Regions from separate parts of the Homo sapiens genome. Here regions 1, 3, 4 and 5 are each linked to region 2. Evidence: fine-mapped expression QTL. A gene starts in region 2. Each other region holds a variant in brackets. All regions are shown on one strand. Distances are between the middles of the regions.

Region 1 (5,095 bases), 160 kb before region 2:
GTATCTGCAGAGCACCTCCCTCACTTCCTTTAGTCTTTCTCAAATGATTCCTTGAGCAGGCCACTCGCTCTCTCTCCTCCCTGTTTTATTTTTCTTTCCCTAAGTGCATGCCATCATCTAACATTTTATAAGTCTGACCTATTTAGCTATTGGATCTACTCTCTGTCAAGAAGCCGGGCTCCTTATGGCTGTGAGCATCTATTCTGTGGGGGCTCATTGCTGTATCCCTTGGGCCTAGAGATGCTTGGTTCATCACAGCAACTCAGGGAAGAGAGGTGAGATGGAGAAGGTAAAGAGGGAGAACCACAGCACACATGTGTGGGGAGCCTATGAAGGGACAGGACATAACTGATGGGAAGCCACCCCACTAAGCCTATCTGGTCTCTCCCCACAGATTAAGAACCCCAAAGTGCTCCTAGTTCTCTCTACTCCACATCCATTCAGCAAACATTAAGCACCTACACCCAATACTTGCCACACAGTTAACTAGGGCCTGGCGATACAGAGGTGAGAAGAGTGCCCATCTTCAGGGAAGTGATTGCTAGTGGGCACCTGCAGGTGGGCAGAAAGATGGATGTTGAGCAGAACCAGCCTTGACAGCAGCTGTGTCACCTTCTCACCTGCAAGACACTTGCTATTCTTTTCTTTTCTTTCTTTTCTCTTTTCTTTCCTTTTCTTTTTTCTTTCCCTCTAAACCTGAATGTGTGAAAAAGCAATCCAATCAAAAGGAAAATAGTGTTAAGAACAAATACATGCTCAAGGAAAGAAGATCCTTTACACTTCCCTTTGAGCTGGAAATCAGCCCTACAATCTGCTTGTCTGCATAGCATTTCATATCTCCCTGAACAGACCCCAAAATCACCAGGATTTAAGTTTTGGAAATAACTGAGTATAATTTGACCCTCAGCACATTTGTCTGGAATACATTCCTTAAGAAATCCAACATGTGCGTATATACACGGCAGAATGCACAAAACTCCATCTCAACCATTAAACTGCTGTTAAAAGGTATCAGGTGGGGAATTAAACTTGAAAACATTTGGGAACCCAAAACGCTATCCAGATCTCCATTCATAGATTTTTTTTTTTAATCAAAAGAATTCTCAGCAGATGGTAGTAAGTCCATAAACTCAGAGCAAGGGGTCTTCAGGGAAGTGAGTTCATTTTAGATCAGATGCTTCAACACCGAGATGCTCTGAGAAATCTGAAACATGGATAGAACACACCAAGCCTTTGTCCAAACCAAGTGGAGTGATTTTCCGGCAGCCACAGGCCTTAGCCACACATTCCTAAACCATGTGCAGCTGTCAGCTCACTGGGGGGACACAGGGAAAGCTGTTAGTGAAAAACCACATGCCCATGAAGTTAATAAATGAATGTCTCAATGTTTTCCACCAAAATAAAATGCTCAGTAGCTCAAGTCCTTAAAATGGCCTAGAACTCAATAGAGGAAAGTGATGTGACTGAAACATTCACAGAACCTGTCTGGGAGCTGGGTTTGTGAGGCACATAAATACCTCACCTGGCTGCTGTTCTCCATCTATTATAAAAAGGAGGAAAGGACTGGAAAAGATTATGTATGCCTAGAAATCCTCGAAAGCTTCAAACTTATTTACACTTAAGAAGGCAAAACATGCTAAGCCAAGCATTCTAGGAGGTGGTGTAATGAGAATTCTCTCTCCCATTTTCCCTTTTTCCCAGTTGAACTTCCATATGTTATCAATTACGAGCCACCACAGTTTCATTCAGTTGAGGGAGCAATTGCATTCACGCATGGCTTGTTTCCCTCTGCCCCAGTGAGCAGAATTTCCAGAGAACAGGATGGTGAACCCGTGGTGGAGAGGTCAGTGTGCACACATTGAAAGGCTAAAATGGGAAGTGTTTCTGAGGCCAATTTGCCTGGAAAACTGTCTGCCAGGAGGGCTTCAATGGTTAATACCCAGCAGCACTACCCCAAGGATATATTTTCGCATAAAGGGTAAGTTTTTGTATTTTGGCTGAGAAAAGGAGTATGCTACTCATTGTCTTTTGGGACAAATATGAGGGTATCAAGATTCAGCTCATATCAATAGTCTTAGATTATTATTTCCCACGCCCCACACCCCCAGCAGAGCTTCCCTGGCTCTGGGCTATGGTGCAAAGTGAGCAGGACTTCCCCTTCCTTTGAAGGCAACTGC[G/A]CAAGGAGTGAAAAATACTTGCTTGTAAAATCTCTTTGTAAAAAGAATTTCATATTCTGGACTCCCATTACCTCAAACATGCTGTCTGGTTTATTTTCCAAGAACAGGTAGGAAGAAAACCCTTCAATGTCAAGCCCAGTTGCCTCTTGTAGAACGGTGGTATCAGCAACAGAGACAGGGGAGGCAGAAGGGCATGAGCTGGTGGGGGCTCCACAGCCACGAGGTGGGATTTAGTTGAGGAGTCATGTTTGGATTCTTCCATTCATTCCAAAGGTACCTACTCTTCACACCCCTGTGCCAGACACTGAACTGGGTAAAGGAGGTAAAAGGTGACCAAGAGAGTCACTTAATGAATATGGTAACTTCAGATTACAAAGAACCAGGAAGGAAATACGAAGGGATGGAGATTAACACAGCATCTACTTTACATAGGGTGGCAGGAAGGGCCCTCTGAGATGTCAGCTGAAGCAAAATCTAAGACGACAAGTCAGTAACAGGAAGATCAAATATCAAGGGAAAAATAGTCTACTAAGGCCAAATGGCAAGATCTTGGCCCCTGGGGACTGGGGTGAGAAGAGCTGGTACGTTCCACAAGCATAGAGAGAGAAGGAGCCCAGAGCAGGGTGAGAGTGGAGAGAATGGGGGCTGAGGGCAAGGGGCCTGGTCGGGAGGGACTACTGAAGGGCCTTACAGGCTGAAGTTTGGCATTTTAAAAGAATTGTGTCATAACTGCAATGGAAACCACAGAATGACACCATGTGATTTCTGCTTTTTAAAGATCACTTTTGGTAGCTTTCTGGGAATACACTGAGGGAAGCAAGAGCAGGGTGGACACCCACTCAGAGGCTATGGTGGTGGTCCTCATGACAGATCACAGTGGCCAGAATGCATTGGGATATTGGAAATCAACAGAGGTTGCAACCTGATTTCAATCTGCCGAGTTTGTCACAGTGGGCAGGTACAACTGAATGCGTTTTTTAAATTTCTGAAAATAAGCCTCCAAAAAGCTAGAGCTTGTAATTGTGGTTCTAAAATGTATCAAAGTATTTTTAAGTATCTGGCAACTACAATATTCTCACCTGATTTCCAGTTAGCAACACTGAAAATCATCTGTGAAAGCAAAGACTGCACATGAATCATCTGGGGAACACTTGTGAAAAGGTGGATTCCTGGTCTCTGTTTCCTACCACCCCCTCCTGATGGGACAGCATGGCGGTCTCTCCTGTGTGGCAGATTGGGTGCACTTCAACAGAGGCTGTAGCCAGAACAGGATAGACTGTACCACAGTAAAAAAAGAGCCCCACACTATCAGTGGCTTAGAAGGATAAAGTTTATCCCCTGGGTTGACATAGTCCTTCTGGGTTAGGATGGAGGCCTTTGTTCCACACTGTCCTCATTCAGGATCCTAACGGAAGCTCCGCCCTATGGGACTCTGCTGGTTGCCATGTCAGGAGGAAGAGAAGAGAAGACAATCGTGGGCTGGCTCTTTATGCTGCCTCCCAACTGTAACATGTCGCTTCTGTTGGTGGCTCATTGGCCACACCTAATGCTATGAGGTGTAGAAATGCCATTCTCCTAGGATCTTGGAAGGAGAGAGAAGGGGATATCAGAACCAGTGGCAATGTCCACCTCAGCAGACAAGGAGGCAGAGGAACCAGGCCTGGAAAGATGGTTCTTGAGATATTGAGGATAACTGGGCATCTATGGATGGTGAAGTTAATAAAATGATATTAAGACAGTGGTACTCATTTCCAAAATTGACAAAAACTTCCTTAGATAAATTTCTCCATCTTTATTAAGTATTTTATGTTTGCTAGGATTAATTTAAAAAGTTAATGTATATTAACAGAAAAACTCTAAATCAAGGTTTCTTTAAATATCTGATACATAGTTTTTGAGTCAAGGGAAACTGCATAAAAATAACAGAGTTGGCTGGGTGCAGTGGCTCACGCCTGTAATCCCAGCACTTTGGGAGGCCAAGGTGGGCAGATCACAAGGTCAGGAGGTTGAGACCATCCTGGCTAACACGGTGAAACCCTGTCTCTACTAAAAATACAAAAAAATTAGCTGGGCATGGTGGCGGGTGCCTGTAGTCCCAGCTACTCGGGAGGCTGAGGCAGGAGAATGGCGTGAACTGGGGAGGCAGAGCTTGCAGTGAGCTGAGATCGCGCCACTGCACTCCAGCCTGGGTGACAGAGCGAGACGCTGTCACAAAACAAAACGAAACAAAAAAACAGAGTTTATGTTACCCAGGTTGCTCCTACTTGGCACGATGGAATTGTTAGCCTTGTGAGGCTCCACTGTTCCCTGATCCAGCCTCCTTCATGGGGTCTGAGCAGCTGTCTCCCTGTTCCAGCCCCTCTGCCAGTTCCCTTGCCCTACAGCCCTGGCTGTGTCCACCACCTCACTCATCTAGATCTCCGTTTTCTCCTTCGTACAGTAACATGGAGAGGGACAGTTTATTGCTAATGTCCCTCTCAGAAGAACCCAGAAACTTGGGTCCTGATGTGATCACATACGCTCAACAGTTTTGAGTCACTCACTCTATGAAACAATCACAAACCAGTATGTTCAACAGTGTTTTAAGTTCTGAGAAATGTTATGTGATGCAACTTACTGCAAAGAAGCAAAAGTGGTTCCTGCCATCCTAGATATTAAAAGTTCATTTTCATATGCACAGAATGAGTCTTAGGATATGTTTTATGAACCTGGGTTTGTGTTTTGCTTTTTCCATTTACTGGATGTGTGCCTTGGAGAGGAAACTTAATCCTCAGCTTCCTCATCAGTAAGATGGATTTTAATTTACTTCTAAAGTTCTTGTGAGAATAAAGTGAGATAATGTGACACAGTGCTTAGCATAGTGTCCATCTAAGACATGCTAATAGTTGTTTCATTAATGTCACATGAAAAGAACATTC
Region 2 (5,107 bases):
TTAAAAAGTCACTTCAAAGTTAAAGGGGAAAGGAGAACATGAAATAAGAGTAAACTCCTGACAATCATTTAAAATATCTAAATAGGAAACACAATCTTTGGTTACTAACACATGGCAAATAAGTAGTTTTAAATAAGTGAGTTTTCTTATCTTAGCTAGTTAGGCTATAAATCCTGCTCTAAAATATTTTAAAGCATGAAAAAGAATTAAATGCTCTGGTTGTTGTATATACAGTAGACATATTTATCTTTTATCATCTTTTAACACTGTGAGAGTTACTTAACTCTGCTGTACCAACGGTTCTTTCCATTGGGAATTGGAAGTGGGATTCTAAACCTAGAGAACAAGGGAGTGCAGGGGAGGTAAGGAATGGGGTTCAGAGCCCAGGTCTTCCCTAATGTGGAGGCCTCTCTTTAAACAATTAGGCTCTTAAAGACAACCAGGTCTCCTTATGAAAGGCACCAGGGCATGACTGGGTTCAAGACTGATGTCTTGCCCTTAGAGATCCAATATATAAGATGAATTAAATCAACCCTCACCATGCATAAGGATACGCAGAGAAGCCTGTCAGTCATAGGCATAATAACAACCCAACCTCAGCCCTGATCTAAAATTAAAACCACAGACTTAAAATAGATCATGACCTAACAGATCAGAATTTTAAAAATCAAAACGACCATTTTCCAAACAGAAAATAACACATAGCTTGATAAGAAAAATTAAAAGTAATATTAGCTGACACCTAGAACTATATGCAAGGCACTGTTCTAAGCACTTTATGTCAGGCTAACAAGGCACCAACCACCTCTCTGTTCAATTAGTGACTTTACATGTACAATCTATAGTAATACTACAGATTAAATACCGTAGGGTAAACCAATGGGATGTTATCAGTGAAGGATTCTAGTTTACCATTAACTCACCTTTATTCTAGAATAACTATGCTTAATAAATAGCTTACCTGAATGACCAGGGGTTGTGATGTCACAAAAATGAGTACAAGAAATTAATACAAGTATCTTCCCAGAAATCACTACGTGTAAACTGGGGGGAAAATAATAAATACCTTCTTCACCAACAAAGGAAACGAAGAAAATGGAAGTCCTACTATCCATACTGCAAAAATGCTTATTCTACTATCATATTCCCTTTTGAGAAATAGACCAGTTACGCCAGAAGTGCAATGTTGTCACAGATGTGTGCCAGATTTTGCAGAGGACATAAGTTGGCTGTGAGGAAGAACACAGAGGTTGCCTATTTTTTAGGCAGGAAAGAAAGCCTGCACTTTTCTGTGTGTGTGTGTCAATAAATCTGAATAACAACTTGAAAGGGTTAAAAAGCTGAGCACCAGGTGTTTTCTTTCCACTTTCCAGAGTAATTTAAGCACACTGCAAAGTTATCTCCCTTCCTTCCCCACGAGCCAGCTTAAGGGAGACCTGTCACTGCCATTTACACTGTACAGCTCCAGCTCTAAACAATAGGAGGGCACCAGGCTGGGCAGCAGGCATCGCGGCTTCCCACAGCCTGTATGGGCTTTGTTGCCAAGTTATGAGCTCCGCTGGGTGATGGAGACACGAGTGAGCCAAGGAGAATTTAATTCTATTTCAAATCTGTATGCTTTCAAAGAAAATAGAGACAATTGAGGCCACGGGAGGAGCTGGAGGGGGTAACCAAAAACAAACTTTCGGAACCTCAGAATCTACATTTCTAGCAGTAATTCTCAGCAAAGGATTAGGTGGTATTGATACTCTCATAAAGTATTTAACACCGAGATTAGAGACCATTCAGGAGCGGTGGCCGAGCGGAGTCCCCATCCTTCGTAGTCCCACTCCTCCAGCAGCAACCGGCGGCGCGCTTTCGGAGCCCACCTCCGCTCCGCAGCGCGGCCAGCTTCCCCCCGCCCTGGCTCCAACCCCGGCTCCAGCCCCGGCCCCGTGCCCAGCCTCCTAGCCGAGCCCGGGACGTGCAGCCAAGCCGAGCGCAGAGGGGGCGCGGGGCAGGCAGCGGCGCTGCGCCTCCCCCGGCAGCCCAGAAAGCCGGACGGGGTCCGCCTGGGCCAGTGAGGCCGGGCTCAACGGAGACCCGGGCCGGGCGGGGAAGCTGCAGGCGCAGAGCCGGCTTAGCTCCGCGCCGCCTGGCCGCGCGCAGCTCCCGCATTGTCCGCAGTCGGGGCGCGGCGCGACCACTGAACCCGAATCCCAACCCCCGCCCAGCAGTCTCTCTCCCGGCCCCCACGGCCCAGTCTTACCTGGGCCGCTCACCCCAGTCCCTGGCGGTGCGGCCCGAGCCGGGAGCCAGGCTCCGGGGGACTGCAAGGAGGGAGAGTCGGGGCCCGCGAGGGACGAAGGGCCGAGAGCGGGCTGTAGGGGCCGCCGAGTGTTCACGGTCGCCGCCGCGGGGCCGCGGGTAGAGAGCAGACGGGGCTGGCGGAACGGGCCCAGGACGCGCGGCCGCGAAGGGCCCGGCTGGCGGCGGCCGCGATGGTTCGGTCTGCACCGAGTGGGAGGGCTCAGGCAGGCTTCGCCGGAGAGTGAGGGAGGGAACTTGGAGCCAGTTGCTGTGGCCGAGAGCGCGTGTCCCTGAGCCAGTGTACACGCCCCTCGTACACCCCGCCCCGCCTCCATCCCGCCCCCACCCCACCTTCCGGGTCCCCACCCTTCTCGCACCTCCACTCCAAGCCCTGCCTCTCTCTCAACATCTCCACCCCGCTACTGATGCCCATCCCACCCCATCCCTGACCCACCCCCCATTCCACTCGGTCGGCGCCTCCATTTCCTCCCTATCCCCCACTCCCACCTATGTCCGCACGCAAGCACCCCCACCCTGCTCCCACCCGGTGATACCGCTGGATCTCGGACTGCCACCCCAGTGCAGATCGCTCAGCACTGGAGACGTAGAGCCTGTGCCCTGAATGAGATAACCCCACCTGGTAGTCCAGCCATCCAAACGTCTTGGTGCTTGACATTTTCTGTTTACTAACTTTCATATACTCAGATGGAGCGTCCTAGCTTAATTTCTGAAGGCATTTTTAAGACTTCAAAAAAATGTTTGGAGAAAATAGTAAATAACGAAAAATATCAAGCATGATGTACTACCTCTGAAATGTGGGCCAGCTGATGTTTTAAAATGAAATGCTTTGGGGTGCGTCATTATTAATCGCCTAATATAGTATTTGAGAATACTTTCTGCTTAGATTTGCTTAATAACTTGGTTGTTTCAGGAGAGGATTTGTTTTAGGAAGACTAAACACATTGTAATTTAATTTTGCTATTGGGAAGTCTAAAAGATAAAATCCATCTTTATCAAAATGAATTTGAATGGGATATGGACTCACAAAATAATTGTTTCTTCTAGAAAATATTGAGCAAGGATTTCTTTTTAATCTCTGGTACATTAACAATACGATTTCACTCATCTCATTTTCTCAGAAAGATCGTTTATATTTGAATTGTGCTTCAATTCAATGAATCTATTGTTTCATAATAGTTAAGAAGTTGCCAACTAAATAAAACTCAGACTTTATAATAATATATTTTTTTTCTATTTAAAGATTACCATTTTAAGAAAGTGACATGATACTGGGATTTAAATGGAACTTTCCTTTGGCATACTAATACATTCCTTGTTATCACAGATTACGTTGTGGTCTCCATTAACTCCAAAAGTCATATAACAATAGAAATAAACTATTTTTCATCATTCCCATAGCAAATGGAACCAACTTCTCTCCCTCTCAAGTATACTTTTTTTCCCCACTTCTTTGCCCCAATCCCTTCCTTTTAGGAATTTCCCCCTCCCATTGGGTGTGACTAGCCCACAGAGCTTCCTGACATTGTGAGGGATATGACCCAGGCCAGCCAATTAGAATATCGTCTGAGAACAAAGGAGGAGGGTCCTTTCCCTGACTGACAGGGCAGCTCCTGGGACCATATCATATATGCGTGCAGCAGCTGGAGTCAACTTACTGGAGAATAAAACAAAACCAGAAAAAAAGCCAAACTGAGCAATGGAGACAGAAAAGTGCCCTGATGACATCAATGGCCATCCGAAGACAGTCACCTCTAAAACCAGTCAAATCCTGAACTTCTGAAGTAATGCACCAATAAATTGTCTTTCTTGCTTATGCCATTTTGAGTTAAGTTTCTTTCCAGAAGACTCACTTATAAAATCATAAAAGATTCCCCTATGATCGATGCTTTGAAAATCAGGAATGTAACCAATGAGTTTTAGCTTTCTTTCTTTTTTTTTTTTTTTTTTTTTTTGATGACAGAGTCTCACTCTGTCACCCAGGCTGGAGTGCAGTGGCATGATCTCCACTCACTGCAACCTCCACCTCCTGGGTTCAGCAATTCTCCTGCCTCAGCCTCCCGAGTAGCTAAGATTATAGGCACGGGCCACCACGCCCAGCTAATTTTTGTATTTTTAGTAGAGACGGGATTTTGCCATGTTGGCCAGGCTAGCCTGGAACTCGTGACCTCAGGTGATCCACCTGCCTCAGGCGCCCAAAGTTCTGGGATTACAGACGTGAGCCACTGCGCCGACCAAGTTTTAGCTTTTCTATTGCCTAAACTACTTCTTGATAATAAAGTATATGCCAAGGAGTTCACTTAGTAGGACCCCTAACTCTTATTATTAAGGTTCTCATTTAGGGTTTTACTATTGCCCAGTGTAGATTTAATAGCCCCAAATTGTCATCACCAAAACCAAAAACCAATAAAAGATGTGGTTAAAGAGACAGAGAGAACACAGTAAAACATCTATGCTGGAATATTTCAGTAAATATTGTCTTATCAATTATGCCAATAAAACTGCTCTCATAATCCCTAATGTTTGCTGATTTAGGACATAGTTTTCTTGTTTTGGGGACTGAAAATGTTAAGGACTGCTACAGATTTTCAGAGAATGTTGAAATTAGTTGTTTGTACTAGAATTTTATTGTGTTGTTTATTCTTCAGAAGTGGGCCATTATCCTAGGCTTGGAATTCTTTTGTTTCACAGAGGTTTCTGTCTCTAAAAGTATGTAACAATATTTGACTAGTACCCAAACAAGCATCCATACACGAATCAGAATGTAATTTAACCATTATTCACAGGTGACTCTGGACAG
Region 3 (5,107 bases), 360 kb before region 2:
ACCTGTGTGTTGCCCTTTCATTCTTGCTTCTCAGCTTTTGCTTGCACTATCCAGCCCTGCCTGGAATGCCTTCCTTGACGTCTCCATGTACCAAAACCTTCCTTCAAAGCTCTGCTCAGGTCCTATCTCCTGTAGGGAGATGTTCTCCATGCAGCCTATAATTTTCCTTTTCCCTGAGTTCTTACACTACCTTCAGGGCATATTGCTCATTGGACCATTTCAATACATGCTGCTTTTGTCATGTGGTGTGATATAGTTTGGGTGTCCCCCGACCAAATCTCATGTTGAGATGTCACCCCCAGTGTTGGAGAGCGGGCTGGTGAAAGGTGTTTTGTTCATGGGGGCAGATCCCTCATGGCTTTGTTCTGTTCTCACGATAGTGAGTGAGTTCTTGTGACATCTGGTTGTTTAAAAGTGATTGGCATCTTCCCCCTTGCACTCTCGTTCCTGTTCTCACCCTGTGATGTGCCTGCTCCTGCTTCACCCTCTGTCATGAGTAAAAGCTCCCTGAGGCCTCCCCAGAAGCTAAGCAGATGCCAGCACCATGCTTATACAGCCTGCAGAACCGCGAGCCAATTAAACCTTTTTTCTTTATAAATTACCCAGCCTCAGGTATTCCTCTATAGCAATGTAAGAGCAGCCGAACACATGGTACTTTCTCTGTGCTTTGGCTGTCAAGTAGACAAGTGTGAGCTTCAGAGGTAAGAGTTCTTGTTTCTCCCACAGTGCCCTTGCACTTTGCAGAGGCTTAAGATTTGGCAACTACTCTAGATGAAAAATTCTATTGTCAAGAGAATTAATGCAATGGATAGGAAAATTAATGGGATTTCAAAACTTGTGTTTAATTCCAGATCGCTAACCCCTACTTGGTGTAACCTTGGGTAGCATAATTAATCCCTTTGAGAATTTCCTGATTACACACACACAGACAACACATGTGCATACACACGCATCTGATGGCACCATTGTGAAAATTAAATGAGGTGATGTGACTGAAAATCTGGTATGTATTGGTATGTTTGCTTATCCCACTCATATGATATTCCAAAGATAGTGGATATATTATTACTTTGCAGTATATAAAAGATATTATTGGCAACAAAAAGAAACATTTGCTCTGACATATGGAACAGCCTTGAGCTCTTGGGCAAGCATCCCTCATGCAGTCATATCTTTATAATTTTTGAATTATGGATTAGAGCTTGTATCCTCTTAATTACTTTGGGGTAATAGGGATCTCCATTTCAGTTTAATTGAACCATATAATTTAAATAATTAATAAGTTAAGCAAATTGAATAGGAGGTCTGGTTCAGGCATTCACAGTTTCTAATCAGGCAACCCAAACCAACAGGAACAGAATTCCAAGGAAAGGATTGAGACTAAACACAAACGAAACACAACGTAAAGACAGATGACTCTCACACATTACATTGATTACATGGAAGGCCATTGCTATTATGAAGTAAAATTCCTTTAAAAACTTCTCAAATAAAGGTTGCATTTACATATCTACAAGACAATATTCATGTTTTTTCAAAATTTTATTTGGATTTCAGAATCTTTAGGCTGAAGTGGACTATATAGATTCTTATCTCTTGGATTAGTTTTGAGATGAGGAAATTGAGGCCCAGAGAGTTCCTGTGGTTTGTCCAGTGTGACAGGTCCAGTTAGTAGCAGAGCCTGAACTAGATCGCTAGTAATTTGAGCCCTGGCTCTTTTCCATGAGATTCTGCTGTCTTCAGGTTTCTATATTTTTAGCATAGGGATTTTCTGAGTTTTGGAAATCATGAAATCTCTTCGTCAGATGACCACTGTGTAAAACAGCTAAAACCATACCTTCTGTTTTGGGAGGTTTGAAGAGTTGGAACCCTTAAACCTCCTTTGCTCCCCACCCTGAAATTAGTGGCAGTCATGTAACTCCAGGGCTCAGCAGAAAAAAATAATGTCTGATTTGGCCTATTCTTTCTTTTAGTACTAGTAGATATTAATGTATATATTTAAAACACATTTGCAGGTTAGGATAAATAAACATAGTTTATTTATCAATCTTACCCGGTCATATCTGGGTAAATTTGGTCACTTAGGAAAATGAAACAAGAAAATTATTGACTGTGCAAATGTGGCCACATGGGTGTTTTTTCCACACATTTATGTCAGCATATCTTATTTGTATTTTAAACACTTCTTTTCTAATGCTGGATTCTTGCTAGTTATGGGGAATTGTGACAACATTTGCAATATTTTCAAACAGCAATAGAAACTTTGAAAGAATATCTAAGGTGGCCAACAGACAGTAAAGTTTACTTCATCTCCATTATATGTTGCTACCATGCCTCCTCCATGAAATAAATTGTAGCATTTATTTTTATACAGTTGAAGATGCAGTATTCACTTACCACTTGTCAGAAGTGTTTCTTGATATGCTGCCCCTATGTGTTATCACGTCAACTCCATCTGTCCAGAACGCTGTTACTGTTTGACGCCATTGGGAGTTGGAAGATAGCAAAATAAGTCACACATTCTCAGGATGGGGCAGATTTGCATAGAGATCTAATCATTACGGTTATCTGAATCGAAGCCTTGTACGTGGGTCCCCTAAACTCGACAGAAGAAAGCAGGCAGCACTGTGAGAAGACAGTGTTTCTATGCCAGCCTGTCATTGCTTTTCCTGCTTTTATGTCTCTTTCAAATTTTTCATTTGTTAAATAAT[T/G]GAATTCTTACTTGATATCAGCTTATCATGTTAACTGATGGCTATATATTTTAATGCAAAGGAGAAAACCCTCCAACCTGTTTTGGAAGACAGAGTTTGAAAATTATTCATACAGTATACTATTTCCAACTTACTTTTCAATTTTGGAAAACAGTGAAAAAAACAAAGGATAATTCATATTTGTATTAATTCATTCAAAAAATATTCACTGAGTACAAATTATGTACCAGCTACTGGACTAAACCCTGGGAGTTGAAAGATTTATTTGGTGTGAGCATATAATACAGAGGTGAAAAATATGCACAATTAAAATACTTACAATTCATCATGACTGGGGCTGTTTTGGTGCGAAAAATGCTTTGGGAATATCAGAGGAACCTTGGGAAGAGAGAGAGATTTTGAAAAAGAAGCTGGTATTTGAATTGGATTCTTAAGCATGAGAAGGACTTTGCCATAATAACCACAGCTGTGGTGAAAAATCATGTCTGGGAAAGAAAATAGATGTGCTGAGGGCCTGCAAAGTCAATAAAGGGGTTGAGGACACACTGTGGGGAACAGAAGCTGGCAGGCGAACCAGGTGTTCGGGGCAATGGAGTTAGGATCTCGGTGTACTTTTGTTGAGTGGAATAAATGCCTGTATGATAAGAATAAACTATTGGAAGTATCCCAAATATTCAATGCTGGGGGAATGAATAAGCAAAATGTATATATGGACAATGAAATCTTAGTCTTTAGGAAAGGAAGGACATTCTGACACATGCTACAACATGGATGAACCTTGAGGACATACTCAGTGAAATAAGCCAGTCACAAAAAGGTAAATACTATATGATTCCCCTTATAGGAGGTACCTAGAGTAGTAAAAATTATAGAGACATAATAATAATATAATGTAGAATGGTAGTTTCCAGGGTCTGGAGGGAGGGGAGTTATCATTTAATGGGCACAGAGCTTCAGATGAGGAAGATGAAAAAGTTCTGAAGATGGATGGTGGTGGCAGTAGCACAATATGAAGGCACTTCTTACCACTAAACCATATATGTAAAAATGGCTACAATGACAAATTTTGTGTTATGAATAAATACCACAATAAAAATACCTTGGATCATTAAAATAAAAATAACTTGGCCGGGCGCGGTGGCTCACGCCTGTAATCCCAGCACTTTGGGAGGCCGAGACGGGCGGATCACGAGGTCAGGAGATCGAGACCATCCTGGCTGACACGGTGAAACCCCGTCTCTACTAAAAATACAAAAATTAGCCGGGCAAGGTGGCGCGCGCCTGTAGTCCCAGCTACACAGGAGGCTGAGGCAGGAGAATGGCGTGAACCCGGGAGGCGGGGCTTGCAGTGAGTCGAGATCGCGCCACTGCACTCCAGCCTGGGCGACAGAGCGAAACTCCGTCTCAAAAAAATAAATAAATAAATAAATAACTTGGATAATTAAAAAAAGAGAAATAGCTATTAAATGTATCATTCCTCATGGAGGTTTTAAACTCTGCGGAAACACTGATCATGACTTTGCTAGATATCAGCATATGTGAGATTTACATAGGGGCTTAGGTGACTGCTAATTCAATATGGTGGTCATTAGGTTTTCAAAGAAAAGGAAAATTATACTTAAATTTTCCTAGTCAGGAAGATGGCTATCTTCTCATCATATCATCATATGGTGGAAAGAGGGTGAGAGAGCTCTCTGGGGCTCCCTTTTATTAGGACACTAATTTCATTCATGGGAGGTCCACTTTCAGGATCTACTCACCTTCCAAGGCCCTACTTCCTAATACCATCACATTAGGGGTTAGAATCTCAACCGGTGAATTTGGGGGCGACACAAATATTCAGCCCATAGCTCATAAATAGCTAGGACATCTTCGAAACAAGTAAACATCACCCACAAGGAAATGAGTAAGAAACCTGAAAAACAAATCCATGTTTTCAGCTGGCAATGCAGGCTTTAAACATAATTAAAAAGAGGAGTAGGAGAATGAATGGAGGAGACAACTTGAGCTAGGCTGGTCAGGAGAGACATCAAAATCCAAGTGTTCTTTTCATTGATACTCCTCAGTAGGAAGAGATCATTCTCTTCTACTCCATTGGGAGAACTGGACTTGGGTGGGCCCTGAGACATAACATCAGTGCCTGGCACCAGCCTTCCTGGGACAGAATGAAGCTTTCCTCCAGGACCCGGATCTTCAGACCAGTGCCTCCTTCTGATTCCTGGCACACAGGCAGCATTCTTCCCAGACCCTTGCATCACATTGTGGGGAAGCCACAGTAGCACCAGACCTTTCCCCACGCTGTGGCCTGTGCCTGCATCCCATGGCTCACCTAGACCCCTTTCCTACAGTTGTTCAGAGATGCTTTGTGATTTCCCAGCCCTCATTTTTATTTTGAA
Region 4 (5,107 bases), 130 kb before region 2:
AGAGGAAGAACGTACTGCTTCTGTGAACTTAAAGTTTATCAACAGGGAATCAGATCCTAGGAGAAAACAGCTAAGAATTCATAGAGTAATATAATAGCTAAGGAAGGGATTCAATCATTCAATTTATACTCACGCTGGGCACTGTTACTAGCACTGGAGGTATTGACATGAATGGAAGAGACACAATTCCCTGTTTTTGTGGCATGCTCAGGCATTCACATACATTCCACAGAACAGATTGCACAATTCAGGGTAGAGATGGAGGAGATTTTATAGTTGGATTCTAAGGGAAAATGTAAACTGTGCCTATAAGGAGGAAAGGCTGGTGTGACCGCAGGTTCTAGGTCCTAGGGTCAGAACATGTGAGTCCCCTCCCCCATTTACCACTGCATGACCTTGAAGAATCGTCTCTCTAACTTTAGGTTCCTTAGCTGTGCCATGGGGCTGATACCAGGACTCATGATCGTAGAGGCGGCAATATATGTTAGCTACTGTTCTTTTTAACGAACTGGAGAAAACATTATCAGATGAACATCATAGACTATAAAGGCAATTTGCAGATTAACAGAAGGAAGAATTTTTGAACAATTCAAACTGTTCAAAACTAGAATTCATTGGTTTTTAAAGAAGTGCTAGCTTTTTATCCTAGGAATGCTTCATGCAGAGGTAGACTTAACATCTGTTCAAGAAATTTTAGAGGGGATTCCTATAATGGGTGTAAGGAGGAGGCAGGTGAATGTCAAGTTCCTTTCTAATAGGTTCTATGTTTCTTTGAAACTTCTACTTTCAAAGCAAGAAGAAAGGAACATGAAGACAGAACATGAAGGCAGAATTTTAAAGATAAACTGTAATAAGAATTTAAGCATTAAAAAAATCATTGCAATATATTAAGAAAGTGACAAGAATGTTTTTGATAAGTAGATTAAATCTAAGAAAAAAAAAGACAGTAAAGAAGAGGGAGGTTTAAGCAGACTGGATGAAAAAAGTAAGAGCGGAAGAAAGAAGGAGCAGGATGCGGGGCATCTCATCAGCCGTGGGCACTGGAGACCCTGCATGGGTGTGGCTCTGCCTTGGTAAGCTGTCAGCCTTTTGTTCCTCCCTGTTCTAGTAGCCGCAATCTGTGCCAGGGTTGATCCCTCACATCCTTTATGGTCCTGAGCCTCGAGCCTCACATACTTCTCATACAGCATGTATGAGAAGGTACAGAATGTGTACAGTGCCTCCAGCAGCGCCTTCCTTTCCTCCAGGCCAAGGGAACCACTGGACAGGAGCCATTTATTGGGCTAAAATACTACCAACAGGGGCCCCGAAGGGGGTGGCTGACTGGAGAACGGAGGCAGCTTCTAATGTTATCGAGAGGTGGATGTTTCTGCAATAAACTGTGCTAAAAGGTCATGTTATATTTGCATGTAATGTGTCAGCTTATTTCTGAGATTATGATAGTCTTTGGAAGACATTTAGCCAGCAATTACAGTTCAGTAATCACCTTGTTAATTCTCCAGTTGGGACACAGTACCCCTGAGGCCACTGGCTCAGAGCTGAGATGACATCAGAGACCACTGGGTGTAATGCTTGCCTCTCCAGACCAACTCTGACTCAGGTGGTTTCCCTTCCATTAGCCTAGAGGGGATCGAACTCTTTTGTGACATTCTTCTTTCTTATTGACTATTAGAGGGAAGATGTTGAATGTTTCTCTTTTGTTTAATAGCTCTAAAGATAGACGGAGTCTTTTAAACCTTCATCTATTTTATTTACTAAGGCATTCTGGATCACTCCCAGCGTTGTTTCTAGAACTCAGGAGGTGAAGCTTTCCTGTGTTTACAAGGATACTTGAAAAGACATTTCAATAAATGCAGCCAATACGTCTATGAAGAGCCAATGATTCCTTTTAGCAGGCTAAAACTGACCACAAAAGAAAAGTTATCCTAGGGAGATGATGGAAAAAAAAATATAAAACTTATTGTTTGTCTCAGAAAATATTTCTAGTCTTTGGACAAAGAACTACTCAAAATGCAATTTCTCATTTTTCAATGCCAGCTTTTTCAAACATTATGATCAACAGCAAAATGTGACCTACTTCCTCTGATACCTCAGAAAAGTGATGTGTCATCCCCAAATCCATTTCCCCCACTTGCAGGGCAAAAGACAAATACTTATACAGCCATCCTTCTCTGACAGATGAGAAGGGCTCTTTTAATCAACATTCTCAAAACACAGTTAATTTTTTTTTTCCTGAAAAGTATCTATCAAATGTTTCCCTATGGCTGGACAATTTAAATAATCCTTGGGTTCAGCTCTCTAACTGAAACTGAAATCCTAGAGTAGACTGGG[G/A]AAACTCAAAACAGGGCCTCACAGGGTGCTGGTGAGGGAAGTGATGTAAGGATTACAGTGATTTTTCGAAAAGTAGAATTCTCTGAGAGCACTTGATGTGAGAATCCTGATGAAACCAAAGAAGGCCCTAAGACCCCTAGGAGGCCGTGGAACACTGAACGCAGAGCAGATGCAGGACTCATGTTGGTCTAGTCTGAATCCTGCTTCCCTGTCTTTTAGCTCTGTGACTCTGGACAAGAGAATTCCATTTGTGTGATTCCCTTTTCCCATGTGTTAAATGGGATAATAACAGCACCTTCCTCACAGGGTGATAGTGAAGGTGATATGGCGTGAAGGCTGGAAGACACTGAGCACAGGGCCTGTCTGTCATACAGAAGGTGTGAACTATATTTTTATAGTAAAACGGTTATTTTTAATTGGACATACTGACAGTACTTGTGTATTGTGAGAAAAATCACTTCCCTGGTCAATCCATCCAAACACATGCAAATTCTAGATGTTCTTGTAAAAATGAAATGGATTAAAAGAGAATCTCCAAAACCCCTTATGGAATTTGAGAACCACTGCGCTAAACCTGTTTACTTTGAGGAAATCTGACATCTTCACTAGGTTGAGCCTTCCTGTCCATAAATAGGGATCTTCCTCTCCATTTATTTAGACTTTTGATTTTTTTCATCAGTGTTTTGTAGGTTTCAGCATATAAGTTCTAGATGTGTTTTATTAGATTTATTTTTAAGTATTACATTTTTTTTGAGCCAATGTAAATGGTATAGTATTTTTAACATGAGTTTCCACATACTCACCACTATTGAGAAATACAATTGACTTTTGTCTGTTGATCTTATATTCTGCGAACTTGCTGAACTCACCTTTTGGTTCTAGGGTTTTTTATTTACATTTTTGTGTAGATTATTTGAGATTTTCTATGTAGACAATCATATAAGACAAGATAGACAATAAAGAAGAAGCAGGTGTAAGAAAAGTGGGCCAGATGAAAATGAGGGAGAAGGTCAAGCAAAACCTCCCATCAGTTATTTGCGAGCTTATGCAAGATTATGCTAAAACTTATATGGAAAGGCAAAGGAGTATAATAGCTAAAACAGTTCTGAGATAAAAGAATAAAGAATGAGGAATCAGTGTACTCAATTTCAAGACATTATCTAGCTACAGTAATCAAGATTGTGGTATGATGGAAGGACAGATGCACAGATCAGTGGAGCACAACATATAACCCAGAAAGAGCCCCACACAAGTTAAGCCAACTGATTTTTGACAAAGGTGCAAAAGCAATTCAAAGAAAAAGGACTGGACTTTTCAACAAATGGTGCTGGAGCAACTGGATATCCACAGGCAAAAATATAAACGTTGACCTCATACCTTTTATCTCATACCTTATACAAAAATTAACTCAAAATCATAGAGTCAACTGTAAAATAAAAAAATGTTATTATTAGGAAACAACAAAGAAGAAAATCTTTAGGATCTGTGGCTTGATGAAGGGTTCTTTGATATGACATCAAAAGAGTGATCCATGAAAGAAAACTGATAAATTTGACTGATTAGAATTACAAAAACTTTTTATCTGTGAAGGGCTCTGTTAAAAGGATGAAAAGATAGGCAACAGACTGGGGAAAATATCTGCATGATATACATCTGACAAAGGGCTCATATCTAGAACATACAAAGAGTTCTCAGAACTCAACTTTAAAAAAACCAAACAATCCAATTGGAAAATGGGCAAAAGACATTTCAACAAAGGGCATATAAAAAGGGCAAATAGACATATGAAAAGATGTCAACATTATAAGACATTAAAATCTATCACTATTCATGAATGAGCTATCACTACACACTTGTTAGAACAAGTAAGATTAAAAAAAAAGAGAGAGAGACACACCACCCAATAAATGCTGGCAAGAATGCAGAGAAACTCTATCACTATATGCCTTGATAGTAGGAATGTAATAGTGTAGAGACACCCTGGTAAATAGCTGGGCAGTTTCTTGAAAAACTAAACATACACTTACCATAGAACCCAGCAAGTGCACTCCTGGGCATTTATTCCAGAGAAATGAAAACTATATCCACACAAAAACTATACACAGTTGTTCAGAGCAGCTTTACTTGTAATAGCTCCAAACTAGAAGCAACCAAAATGTCTCTGAATGGGCAAATGGTTAACTAAACTATGGTATATCCATACAATGGCTGATACTCAGCAATGAAAAGGAACGAACTATTGAGGCATGCAACGACTGGGATGTATCTGAGGAACAGCTGCATGAAAAAAAGCCAATGTCACACAGTCACATACTGTATGTATATAACATTCTCAAAATTAGAGAGATGGAGAACAGATTTAGTGGTTTTCAGGAGATAAGGATGAGGAGTCATGAGGGTGCTTGTAAAGCACAGGATCTCTGTGGTACAGAATAGGATCTTGATTGTGGTGGTGGTTACACAAATCTATGCAAGTGATAAAATGAACTATACATACAAGCTCAACTTCCTGGTTTGATACTGTACTATAATTATATAAGACATATAGCCATGGGAGGGTACCGGGTGACACATGAAACTTCTACCATCTTTGCAACTTCTTGTGAATCTGTAATTTCAAAGTAAAATGTTTAAAGAAAACAGCTGGGGGAAGAGACAGAGATCCATAATCTGCTTCCCAAATAAAGGAACAATCATGATTTTAAAAAATAACAAGAGGTTAAAATTACAATGTAAATTGACATGTTTCTCAGGTCATAAGACATTTTATATGGAG
Region 5 (5,107 bases), 23 kb before region 2:
TGAAGGCAAATTCAAGAAGTTTTCGGCTAAATGAAAGCTAAGAAAGTTAATCACCAGCAGACCTACCCTATAATAAACAATAGAGAAAGTTCTTCAGGCTGAAGGGAAATAATACCAAATGGAAAAAATTTAGATCTCAGGAAGAAATGAAGCACACAAGAAATGGCAAATGTGTGGATTTATACATAAATATTTTTTCTTTTTTCTTTCTTTTCTTTTCTTTCTTTCTTTCTTTCCTTTTTTTTTTTTTTTTTTTTTTTTGAGACAGAGTCTCACTCTGTCGCCAGGCTGGAGTGCAGTGGTGTGATCTTGGCTCACTGCAACCTCCACCTCCCGGGTTCAAGAGATTCTCCTGTCTCAGCCTCCCGAGTAGCTGGAACTACAGGCATGTGCCACCACACCCAGCTAATGTTTATATTTTTTTTAGTGTAGATGGGGTTTCACCACGTTGGCCAGGATGGTCTCGATCTCTTGACCTTGTGATCTGCCCACCTTGGCCTCCCAAAGTGCTGGGATTACAGGCGTGAGCCACCGCGCCTGGCCTTTTCTTTTTTACATTTACAAAAAGATATTTGGCTGAAAAGTAAAAAATAATGTATTGTGAGGTGTACAACAAACATACAACTAAAATAGAGAACAGCACAAAGGACAGGAGGAGCGTAAAGGAAAATATACAGTTGTAAGATTCTTACATTTAATGTGAAGTGGTAAAATATTCATTCAATGTAGATGGTGATTCTCTATCTATCTATCTATCTATCTATCTATCTATCTATCTATCTATCTATTGTAATCCCTAGAGCAACCAGTAAAAAGTAAAACCAAACCTTGGCTAAAATGCAAAGGAGACAAAATAAAATGCGAAAAATTACTAGATTAAGCCAAAGTGAGGCAAGAAAGAAGGAACAAACAGATCAAACAAATAGAATACAAAAAATAGGGTAATAGACTTAAAAATCAACCGTATCAATGTCTAATATCATTGTAAATTACAATCAATGTAAATGGACTAAACCCCTCAGTTAAAAGGGAAAGTTTGTCAAGACTGAATAAAAAAAGCACTATCTAACTGTACACTATAAGAGACACATTTAAAGGATAAAGATGAGGTATACTAAAAATAAAGGAATGGAAAAAATATATACATATATATACCATGCAAACTCTATAATCATGAGAAAGCTGGTGTGGCTATTTCAATATCAGACAAAGTAAACTTTAAGACAAGAAGTATTTCCAAAGACAAGGAAAAGGCATTACATAATGATCAAAGAGTCAATTATTATAAAGACCTGAGAGTTCTAAATGTGCATGTACCTAATTATAGAACTTCAACTAAATGAAATAAAAGTTTATATAACTAAAGACAGAAACAGATAAATCTACAATCACAGGTGAAGATTTTTAGCACTCTGCACTCAATAATTGATAGAACAGGCAGAAAAAATTATAAGGATATTAAAAAATTAAATACATTTGTTTGAGCATTTAAAAACAACAATTAACTAAATTACACATTTTTTCACATTCTATAGCCCTGTGAAATACAAAAACAATAACATTTTTGGTTTTGGGGATAAAATGACCCAATACACGTGAAGAGCTTAAAACAGTACATTATGACATACAGAGCAATCCTTAACAACAAAACACTCTTTTGAATAATTCTTAGTAATTTTATTCTTCATGTTTTTCTCTAGTCCTGGGGAATCTCATGACATTATTACCAGTCTGGTCTTTGTGTTCAGGTATTTCTCAGCTTTTGATTCTAGTACCAGTATTAAATACCTCATTAGCACCTTTCAGCTACTCATTCACATGAAATATCAAATCAAACCAGATATCAAAAATCCAATTGTGTGTTGATTCCAAGATACTGAAGCTTGTGGATATCTTTCTTCACAATTTATTTTTTAGAGACTTTGAAAACATCTTCTAAGAGATTGAGGCTGTAATGTCACTCAGAATTTTCCAAACAAAAACATCTTTTGGACTTCATGCCCCTCAGCACATACAGAAAAGAAACTGCACACCCTCTTCCACAATTCCTCCACTCTCACTGATGTCAAGTTCAAGTTGAGAGCAAAGCTAAGCTCTCCACTTCACCAATAGTAAAGAGTACCTGAGGCCCTTCCCCTAGACATCAGTAAGTCTAGGGTGGAGGCCTGAAATCTTTATATAAAATATGTGCCTCCAGTGATTCTTATGAAGAACTGGTTCGCATCTTAACTCGACTTTCAGGTTTTCACACAGATGTAGCCCTGCTACTCACTGGCCACATCACCTTGGGCAAGTCAATTAATATCCCTCAGCCAGTCTCTTATCTATAAAATGCAGACTTATCTACCTTTCAGGGTTCAATGAAGCGGCATAATGCCTTAAGCCTTGTAAATGCTCAAATCTTTGTTGAGGAATGAGTAAGAAAACATGCATGATGGGCAAGAAACACATGCATCCAAGCTGCATGA[C/T]TGAGAAGCACTAACTCCCTTACCTACCACACTAGCATCTCCAGTCCTGGCATCTCTCCCTAACTCAAACATTTCCCTAGGCACTGAAAAAGTAAACTGCTAAAGTTCTCCAGACTTGCTGTGCTGTTTCGAGCCTCAGTCTGTTCACTAAGTCTGTTCTATCTGCCTAGCATTTCCTTCCTAAATTTCTCCCCCTACTCCCTGCTTCCAGCCTACTCCTTCACCTGGCTAACATCTACCTTCTCTTAGAAGGCAGGCACATCTGATTCAGCTCAAATCTGACCTTCTTCAGGAAAGCTTTTCCTGGACACACTCCCTCCCTCATTCAGGCTGTGCCCATGCTGCTCATTGCACCAGCTTCTCTTGGGCCCTGGGCTTAGCCTTTTCTCTGGTGCATCATGAGCTCCTGGAGGGCACAGAACATGACAAACACAGACTGGAGCACTTCCTGGCATGAGGCAACACCACGAGGCAAACAGGATGAATACGTGGAGTTGGGTAGCTAGCCAAACTGAGACATTATGAAAGATCTTCCTTCAGGTTCTTGGCTGGCCAAAAATTTGACCTGCAACCAAGCAGCGCCAGGATAGGCTTAAGCTGGGGAGGAACTGAGCTCCCCGCTCCCACCAGCAGGTAGCATCAACTCTCCAGTCAAAGAGCTGAGCCAGAGCTTAGCCACATTGGGTGCTGGAGCCTCCAGGCTCTGTGCAGCCTCAATATGACTGCAACCCCAGCCACATCTGAGAATAACCTCCCGGGAGGCCCAAGCCAGAAGCTCCCTGCTAAGAAACTCCGAATCCCCACAGAATGTGAAGAGAGAAAATCTGTATTATTTGAGCCACTAAGTTTTGGCGTCATTTGTTATGCAACAATAGATAATACAAATTTTACTTCCACACCTGGCTCTCTTTGCCCAGTAAAATCATTTTCTAAAAGCATTTATTTCATAGATTTAAAAAATACCATCAAAGTGGCAATGAGAGCATGTGTTCCAGTTCCCTCTGGCCAAATCCACCAAAGAGACATCAGATTTCTCAGATGCTAAAACTGATTAAAAGATACTCTACATAGCTTTGTTTTCGTGAGGTATTAAGATTAAATGGGTCAAATATATAATTAAACCATATAAATAGAATGAGTTGAATGATACAGTTAGGAATAGTTAAATATTCCAAGAGTTAAATTTATTTCCAAATAGGACCTATTTTAATTATGTAATACTCATTTAACTGGATTTCACTTGAAATCCTCATGCCTTTTTTCTTTTTCTTTTTTTTTTTTTTTTGAGACAAAGTCTTGCTCTGTCACCCAGGCTGGAGTGCAGTGGCACAATCTCAGCTCACTGCAACCTCCACCTCCTGGATTCAAGCGATTGTCCTGCCTCAGCCTCCTGAGTAGCTGAGATTACAGGCACACACCACCACACCTGGCTAATTTTTTATTTTTAGTAGAGACGGGGTTTCATCATGTTAGCCAGGCTGGTCTCGAACTCCTGACCTCAAGTGATCTGCCTGCCTAGGCCTCTCAAAGTGCTGAGATTACAGGCATGAGTCACCATGCCCGGCCCCTCATGCCTTTTCAAGAACACGTTTTAGTTAACTGAGGGCACTTTTACTTAAGGACCTAAGACTAAATTTAGAAATTATCTTCACTGTATTCCTCCAAAATTAATCAATAGTATCTGTATCCATTTTTGTTGAAAAACAAATGTTCTGAGAGTATAAATTTAATGTCACCTTTTCTGAGAGTGTAAATTTAATGTCTTTTTTTTTTGAGACAGAGTTTTGCTCTGTCGTCCAGGCTGGAGTGCAGTGGCGCAATCTTGGCTCACTGCAACCTCCACCTCCAGGGTTCAAGCGATTGCCCTGCTTCAGCCTCCCGAGTAGCTGCGATAACAGGCATATGACACCATGCCCAGCTAATTTTTTGTATTTTTAGTAGAGACAGGGTTTCACCAGGTTGGTCAGGCTGGTCTCGAACTTCTGACCTCAAGTGATCCACCTGCCTTGGCCTCCCAAAGTGCTGGGATTACAGGCGTGAGCCATCGCACCCGGCTTTAACGTTATCTTAAACAAAAACTGCCCAAGCTGTCTGAGCATAAAGAAGAACATCAACTCATCAACTAAAACAATTAAAATTCCTAAGAAAAGAAAGTTATTTTGTAAAAATATTTTTAAATCCAAGGAAATAAGTACATTTTCATGGCCTAAAGTCTTGATGTTAGTAAAAATTTCTAATAATCACTACACTTATAAATATTTTATTTATAGCAGAATATGGTACAAAAACATTTTCTTTTAAAATTAAAAATAAAGATAATAGGTTTGCTTCCAGATGTCCAAAATGTTTAATAAACGATAACCCCAAAACCAAATCATAATTGAACTTGCATTTTAAATATGAAAATCTACACAGATTAAAGAAAAATGCAAAGCAGTTAGGGAAAACATACATGTATGTGACTTATTAAACAGAAGTTTTATTTTAAAAATTAGGAACTGCACTGAAGATTCTCAATGAGAAGGTTAAAGCCTGTTGCATCAAAGGTCATCTTCTCTGGGAGAACTTTTACAACCCTTTCTGCCCTTTGCAGCAGTTTCCCTGCAAGACATCCACCTTTATAACCTTATGTCCGGGGA

The links.
Region 1: its variant is fine-mapped to the expression of FAM110B in whole blood (TOPMed, PIP above 0.99).
Region 3: its variant is fine-mapped to the expression of FAM110B in whole blood (INTERVAL, PIP 0.95).
Region 4: its variant is fine-mapped to the expression of FAM110B in whole blood (TOPMed, PIP 0.98).
Region 5: its variant is fine-mapped to the expression of FAM110B in whole blood (TOPMed, PIP 0.93).

Annotation. Positions count from the first base shown.
Region 1 is chr8:58,153,061-58,158,155 of GRCh38, reverse strand. No RefSeq gene overlaps it. Among named protein-coding and RNA genes, the nearest start is that of LINC03133, 120 kb to the left of the region's middle. RefSeq lists a silencer at 3,341-3,440. The variant G/A (reference allele first, on the strand shown) is at 2,178.
Region 2 is chr8:57,991,948-57,997,054 of GRCh38, reverse strand. FAM110B (family with sequence similarity 110 member B) reads right to left here and starts at 2,532. Exons shown (of 4, transcript NM_001377989.1): 1 at 2,249-2,532. RefSeq lists an enhancer at 1,581-2,081 and silencers at 2,086-2,135, 2,156-2,205.
Region 3 is chr8:58,348,630-58,353,736 of GRCh38, reverse strand. No RefSeq gene overlaps it. Among named protein-coding and RNA genes, the nearest start is that of UBXN2B, 60 kb to the left of the region's middle. The variant T/G (reference allele first, on the strand shown) is at 2,712.
Region 4 is chr8:58,125,689-58,130,795 of GRCh38, reverse strand. All of the region lies in intron 3 of FAM110B (family with sequence similarity 110 member B), which reads right to left. Among named protein-coding and RNA genes, the nearest start is that of FAM110B, 130 kb to the right of the region's middle. The variant G/A (reference allele first, on the strand shown) is at 2,332.
Region 5 is chr8:58,014,491-58,019,597 of GRCh38, reverse strand. The region is part of intron 1 of FAM110B (family with sequence similarity 110 member B); the gene reads right to left. Among named protein-coding and RNA genes, the nearest start is that of FAM110B, 23 kb to the right of the region's middle. RefSeq lists an enhancer at 4,978-5,107. The variant C/T (reference allele first, on the strand shown) is at 2,469.